Regions from separate parts of the Homo sapiens genome. Here region 1 is linked to region 2. The links come from fine-mapping of genetic effects on gene expression. A gene starts in region 2. The other region holds a variant in brackets. All regions are shown on one strand. Distances are between the middles of the regions. Region 1 overlaps SENP7 (SUMO specific peptidase 7). Region 2 holds the start of SENP7 (SUMO specific peptidase 7).

What was found. PIP is the estimated chance that this variant, and not a neighbour inherited with it, causes the effect. A credible set is the group of variants that fine-mapping cannot tell apart.
Region 1: its variant is the best candidate, but not a certain one, in a credible set for the expression of SENP7 in whole blood (INTERVAL, PIP 0.86).

What each region holds. Positions count from the first base shown.
Region 1 is chr3:101,364,695-101,367,613 of GRCh38, forward strand. It overlaps SENP7 (SUMO specific peptidase 7), which reads right to left. Exons shown (of 24, transcript NM_020654.5): 9 at 1,736-2,075; 10 at 140-297. Among named protein-coding and RNA genes, the nearest start is that of IMPG2, 46 kb to the left of the region's middle. The variant A/C (reference allele first, on the strand shown) is at 1,481.
Region 2 is chr3:101,511,556-101,514,474 of GRCh38, forward strand. It overlaps SENP7 (SUMO specific peptidase 7), which reads right to left and starts at 1,657. Exons shown (of 24, transcript NM_020654.5): 1 at 1,536-1,657. The coding sequence starts at 1,575.

The DNA of each region.
Region 1 (2,919 bases), 150 kb before region 2:
CTATAAAAGTTGTCTGAAAATTCAAACTAAGAAAATTTGTAATTTTCATTACAATATTCAGCTTGATAAAACAAATAACAGTCATTAACCAATAGTGTACATTTCATTGTTAATCTATGAGAAGACAGAAATAAATTACCTGTACAGATTCACATGTAATCAATGGTAGTTCTAACAATGCTGATTCAGAAGTACTCTCATTTTCATTAGTTGTCTCACGGTCTTGCTTAGATTGTAACTTAAGAATTTCTGAACTTTTATGTTCAACAGGTCCTTCTTCATCACTGGAAACAACAACTAAAACGGAAAAGAAAAATGTATTTTTGTTTATTTATTTATTTATTTATTTATTTTTTGAGACACAGTCTCCCCATCTCGGCTCACTGCAACCTCCACCTCCCGGGCTCAGGCAATTCTCCTACCTCAGCCTCCCGAGTAGCTGGAATTACAGGCATGCGCCACCATGCCCAGCTAATTTTTGTATTTTTAGTAGAGACAGGGTTTCACCATGTTCGCCAGGCTGGTCTCAAACTCCTGACCTCAGGTGATCCTCCTGCCTTGGCCTCCCAAAGTGCTGGGATTATAGGTGTGGGTCACTGCACCCAGACGAAAAATGTATTTTAAATGTGTAACAATCACATATCAAAAAAAGAACTTTTGGCCGGGAGCAGTGGCTCACTCCTGTAATCCCAGCACTTTGGGAGGCTGAGGTGGGTAGATTCCCTGAGGTCAGGAGTTCAAGATCAGCCAGGCCAACATGGTGAAACCCTGTCTCTAGCAAAAATACAAAAATTAGCCGGGCATGGTGGTACATGCCTATAATCCCAGCTACTTGGGAGGCTGATTAAGGAGATTACTTGAGCCCAGGAGGGGGAGGTTGCAGTGAGCCAAGATCGCACCACTGCACTCTAGCCTGGCCGACAGAGAGAGACTCTGTCTCAAAAAAAAAAAAAAAAAAAAAAAGAACTTTCTAATTAATGCAATTTATTTTTAATAATCCTGTTAAACTGAATCATCTAAATTTATTCAATTTAGAAACAGGCCTATCAGTTGTTATCTGATTTATAGTAGTTACAGACAATGACTCTATATCAGCGCAATTATTCAGCAGTTACCTGTACCCTTACCTTCTAAAGAATAAAGATGTTTAAAAATGGATAAAGCCATGAGGAGGCCTTAGTAACAAATTCTAGTTCTAACAGTGTATTGTGCCATCACTCTAAATTGTACTTTTAAGTCCTGTTACATGAATTGCTTCAAGGAATGGGAAATTAATAACTAGGGGAAGATGTGGGCGAGTATTCACTGGAGATCCTTTAAAACCTTTGGAATTTCTTTGTACCATGTGATGGCATCAACTACTCAGAAGCTGATTAAATGAAAATTAATGATAATAATCAGATAGCACTTAAACTCTGCATAATTCATCAACCAAATGACAGTAATGATGGTCTTTAAATAATCTATTTTAAAACTATTG[A/C]GATGACAGTGTACTTACTAATCTAAGAAAAAAATTACTTCTGTTTTCAAGTCCTCCATTAGTTTACCTAAATCGATATTTTAAAACTCATGAAGGAGACCCCAAACCCCAAGCCCTTTTTTCCTAAAGTTAATATATTCCACAATGATGTCATAAACAGCTTATGGCCTTAGCCAAATTTGTTCAAGAAGAATAAAAAAATAACTAAGTAAAGCAGAGGAAATTAAGTAACTTTATAATCCTCCTGTCACTTACTTGGTTCAGCTGAGATCAGTGATTGGTTCCCTTCATTATGTCCTCTTAGAATAGGCTTTTCTATGGTATTCAACTCATTCTCATCCTTCTCAACCAGGGAAGAAATCCCCACAATATCAATGGAATTAGAGTTCTCAACGGTTTCAGTGGTTGAACCGGCAGAGGCACTTTTGGTGGCATTACTCAAAGTCAACTCCTGACTGTTAAGTGAGGATAGTTTAGTAAAATCACTTTTTGTAGGTTTAGTTGTAATTTCTTCAGGCAGTTTTGGATCCTGATGATAGTTTTCACTTGGCTTTTCAAACTCAGTGGATATTGTTGAGTCATCTTCTTGTTTTTTCTAAACATAAACACATAGAAAAAAATAGCATTTTTCAAATTTGGCTTGCTTAAACCATTTTTAAATTCCTAAAAAAAAGTAAAAATATTATATCACTTCTATAACTACATGGATAGAAAACTAAACAATTATACTACATTATACTTGCCAATGTCTCCCAAATTTAAAGATACAGGATTTGGTCTGTCCAATCTGATGCCTGATAATTTTTTAAAGGGTGAAATTGGGAGATTTCCATCATTACAAATGCTTTGTCAGACGGTCTCCCATGATCTAAGTCAACTTTAGAATGAGAAGATGTATTTACATATTTTTATTTTGCAAAAGTAATAATGCCAATGTGACTACTTTGGTAAAACTACTTTGGTAAAAAAATTTAAAAATCAACAATATAACAACATTAAAAATTATGAAAATCAACCACTGCCTTCAATATCTCATTTACTATATAAATCTGAATCATGTTTATAATTACAACCCAAAAACATTACAAGGTCCTGAAATGATTTATGGATCAAAGAAATTGAAAAGCTGTCTTACTGTTTTATTGCTACTTATATACTAAGTCTTTGAAAATAGAAAATGTATGTATTTAATATGATAATTCTTTACTTAGAATAAATTCCCTAAACTCTAGATAAACAGAAGCTTAAAGAATTTGATAAGTAAATTGCTACTGATAAAATAAATCTAATAATAATTTTACAGAGCAAGCAAAAAAAAATGACTAGACAGTATGAATAGTATTTGGCTGAAATAAAGAAAAAGAAAAGTCTGAAGGATGTACAACTACCTACTAAGGAAAGAGCGATACAAGAAAATAAGCAATTTTAACTTTTTTAAT
Region 2 (2,919 bases):
ACCTACATGTATGTATAAATATACATATATATCATTTATACATGTGCTTTCAAAGGAAAAAACTATTATCTCCAGAATATACACCAAGAACATCGATAACATTGGTTGCATATGAAAAGGGATTTCAGGTTTTCAACTGCTTCAAGCAGTGTCCCCAGAGATCCATAATCACTCTCCTTTGCAATTAAGGCTGAAAGCAGTTTGAGATGCACTGCCACAGGGCACTCCTAAATAAATTTGGAATTGGTTTTTTTTGTTTTTTTTTTGTTGTTGTTGTTGTTTGATACAGAGTCTCGCTCTGTTGCCCAGGCTGGAGTGCAGTGGTGCGATCTCGGCTCACTGCAAGCTCCGCCTCCCGGGTTCACGCCATTCTCCTGCCTCAGCCTCCTGAGTAGCTGGGACTACAGGCGCCCGCCACCACGCCCGGCTAATTTTTTGCATTTTTTAGTAGAGACGGGGTTTCACAATGTTAGCCAGGATGGTCTCGATCTCCTGACTTTGTGATCCGACCGCCTCGGCCTCCCAAGGTGTTGGCATTACAGGCGTGAGCCACCGCGCCCGGCCAATAAATCTGTAATTGTTAACTGTCTCTGCAGAAACCAACGGTACCATCAGAAACAGAAAAATGAAATGAAATAATTGATTCATTGGGCGTTCGTTTGTGTACTGGACTGTAAGCATATGAGTCCTCGTCCTCTCCTCCTACCATCCATAGGACTTAACACAAGGACTTGAGGACCCCCTAATGGATGAAATGTTTGATAAAAACTTCTCAACTGGGAGGAGCTCTACCTCACGTTTTTATAACTCCACTTTCTTGTTTCCAAGACGTTGTACACAAAACTGAAGATAGTCATTTAAAACAAAGTAACGTCCAAAACAAAAAATATGCTGAAAATAAAAACACAACGAAAGCACGGCTTCAAATCCTTTGTTTGACTTTCCAATCACTTTTGGAAGACGCAGGGTAGGCTGGAAAAGAAAAAGGCTATTAGGCGGGCCTGTTCAGCAGAACGAGACCCGGAGAGGCATTGTATCAAAGAAAAGGAGTCTCCGGTCGCAAGCCCCACCTTTCCTCCCCAGCAGCAGCTACCTGCTGAGGGAAAGAGGAGGGAGAGGGGAAGGGACGCAAAGTCGAGAATCAAAGGAAGAGAGGAAAGTGGGGTCAGGCGCTGAGAAGCCGAAATGAAATTGGAACATTGGTGGAATTACGAGGAAGGCGTGGCAGAGAGTGACAAGCCAACCGGGAAGATCCATGGGCCGATGAGACGCAAGGAGGGTGTTCGCGGGAGGAGGGAAAAAATAAAAGGGGTTTTGAGGTGAAGAGCGCCCGAGGCTTCGATGACAGCTCGGACCGGGTCTTCGACTCCAGGGGCGGGGGCGACCCGGGAGCCTTCCATTGTGCGCGCCCCTTCCTCTCCCCGCCCCCGCCCTCGCCCCCGCGGCTTCGGGCCGCAACCCCAGCTGCCGCCTGCGCCTCCCGTTTCCCCCGGGTAGGAGACAATATGTTCAGCCCTTCTCTGACCCTTTCTCACCGGATGAAGATGGCCGTCGCCCGAGCTTTCTCTTGTCCATCTTCTCCCGCTGCTGAAATTTCAGTTGCAGGCGCTGTCACCTCAGGACCCCTCCGGCTTGGAGAGGGAGGGGGAGGGGAAAGGAAAAAAAAAAAAAAAAAAAAAAAAAAAAAAAAGCCCGCAAAGTGCGAAGCGCGCTTGCGCAAGAGCCGTCGCCTGCCCTTCGACCGGAAATCAGCCGCCCCTCCCACCTTCGACCGGAAATCACTTCCTGGGACTTTTCACTGTGGGCTGCCTCTTCCAGCGTTTTTTTGGTGGCGTTTATTTCATGATCTGAGCCCCTCTGGGGAGGTGAACCACCTGGGTGCTCGATTTTAGCTTTGTTGACTTTGAAGATTAGATTGACAAAAATTAAAAGGGAAAAACAGGAACTCCTCCGGTTCACTGGATCTCGCGAGGTGGCCAAACAACTATGAAAACAAAACGTTAGCGTTTGCAGTATTACATCCCTCACAGCCTCTCTTACATATTTGCCCCCAACGCCTTTCCTCGAACTCAGAAACCAAAAGATTTTAAGATGGCAAAATCACCTAATAATAGCCTAGCTATTAGTTTAGCATTTGCTGTGGAAATATGTCAGCAGACGAGGAAAAATGTCTTAGGATTCCTTTTTAAAATTCGAACTTGTGATTTTTAAAGTTCCTTAAAAGAAAAGCTAGAACTTAATTTTTCAATAACTGAAATGCTGATATGACAGAAAGTGGGTGGCTATAAACTTGGAATTTGTTCAATTAACATTTACCACGATACTTAAGGGACTAATCCAGTCCTCAATGAACTCAAGGTCTGGTACTATTAGCCTGATTATCCCTAATGGTGCATATCTGAATAATTTTTAAATGCACGTGTAAGCTTTCATGACGATTTAATCACAAGTTTAACAAAATTCAGCACAGTGCTCTAAGCAGGGAAAATGTTTCTGGCATGTTCAAAGCCCGAAGGGACTCTGGAAGTAGGGTTTGATTCCCAAGCTGGCCCCTTTATACCCCTAACGCCTATCCCTCCAACCCCCATCTCCCATCCTAACGGAGTCAATAAAGGGATCGGCCCAACTCGTCCACTAGAGCAGTCCCCTTCATCGTGAGTTAAGCCTTCTTAATTATAATGTGGTCAGTCCCCAGGTAGAGGTAAGGCCCCAGGTGTTGTGGGGTGTTGGGCCTGGGGAAGTGTTCTACATGGCAGGAATGACTGCAAAGCAGAAATACTTTAAGTCTTGCTGGGATTGAAGTTTACTGTAAGGATTTCGTTTTATTTGGTTAATTTCTGTTTAACAAAAACATTGCTTTCTGAAAAATAATTGAATTTTCAGTTTCCTCACAAATTAACTTTTTTTTTTTTTTGAGAC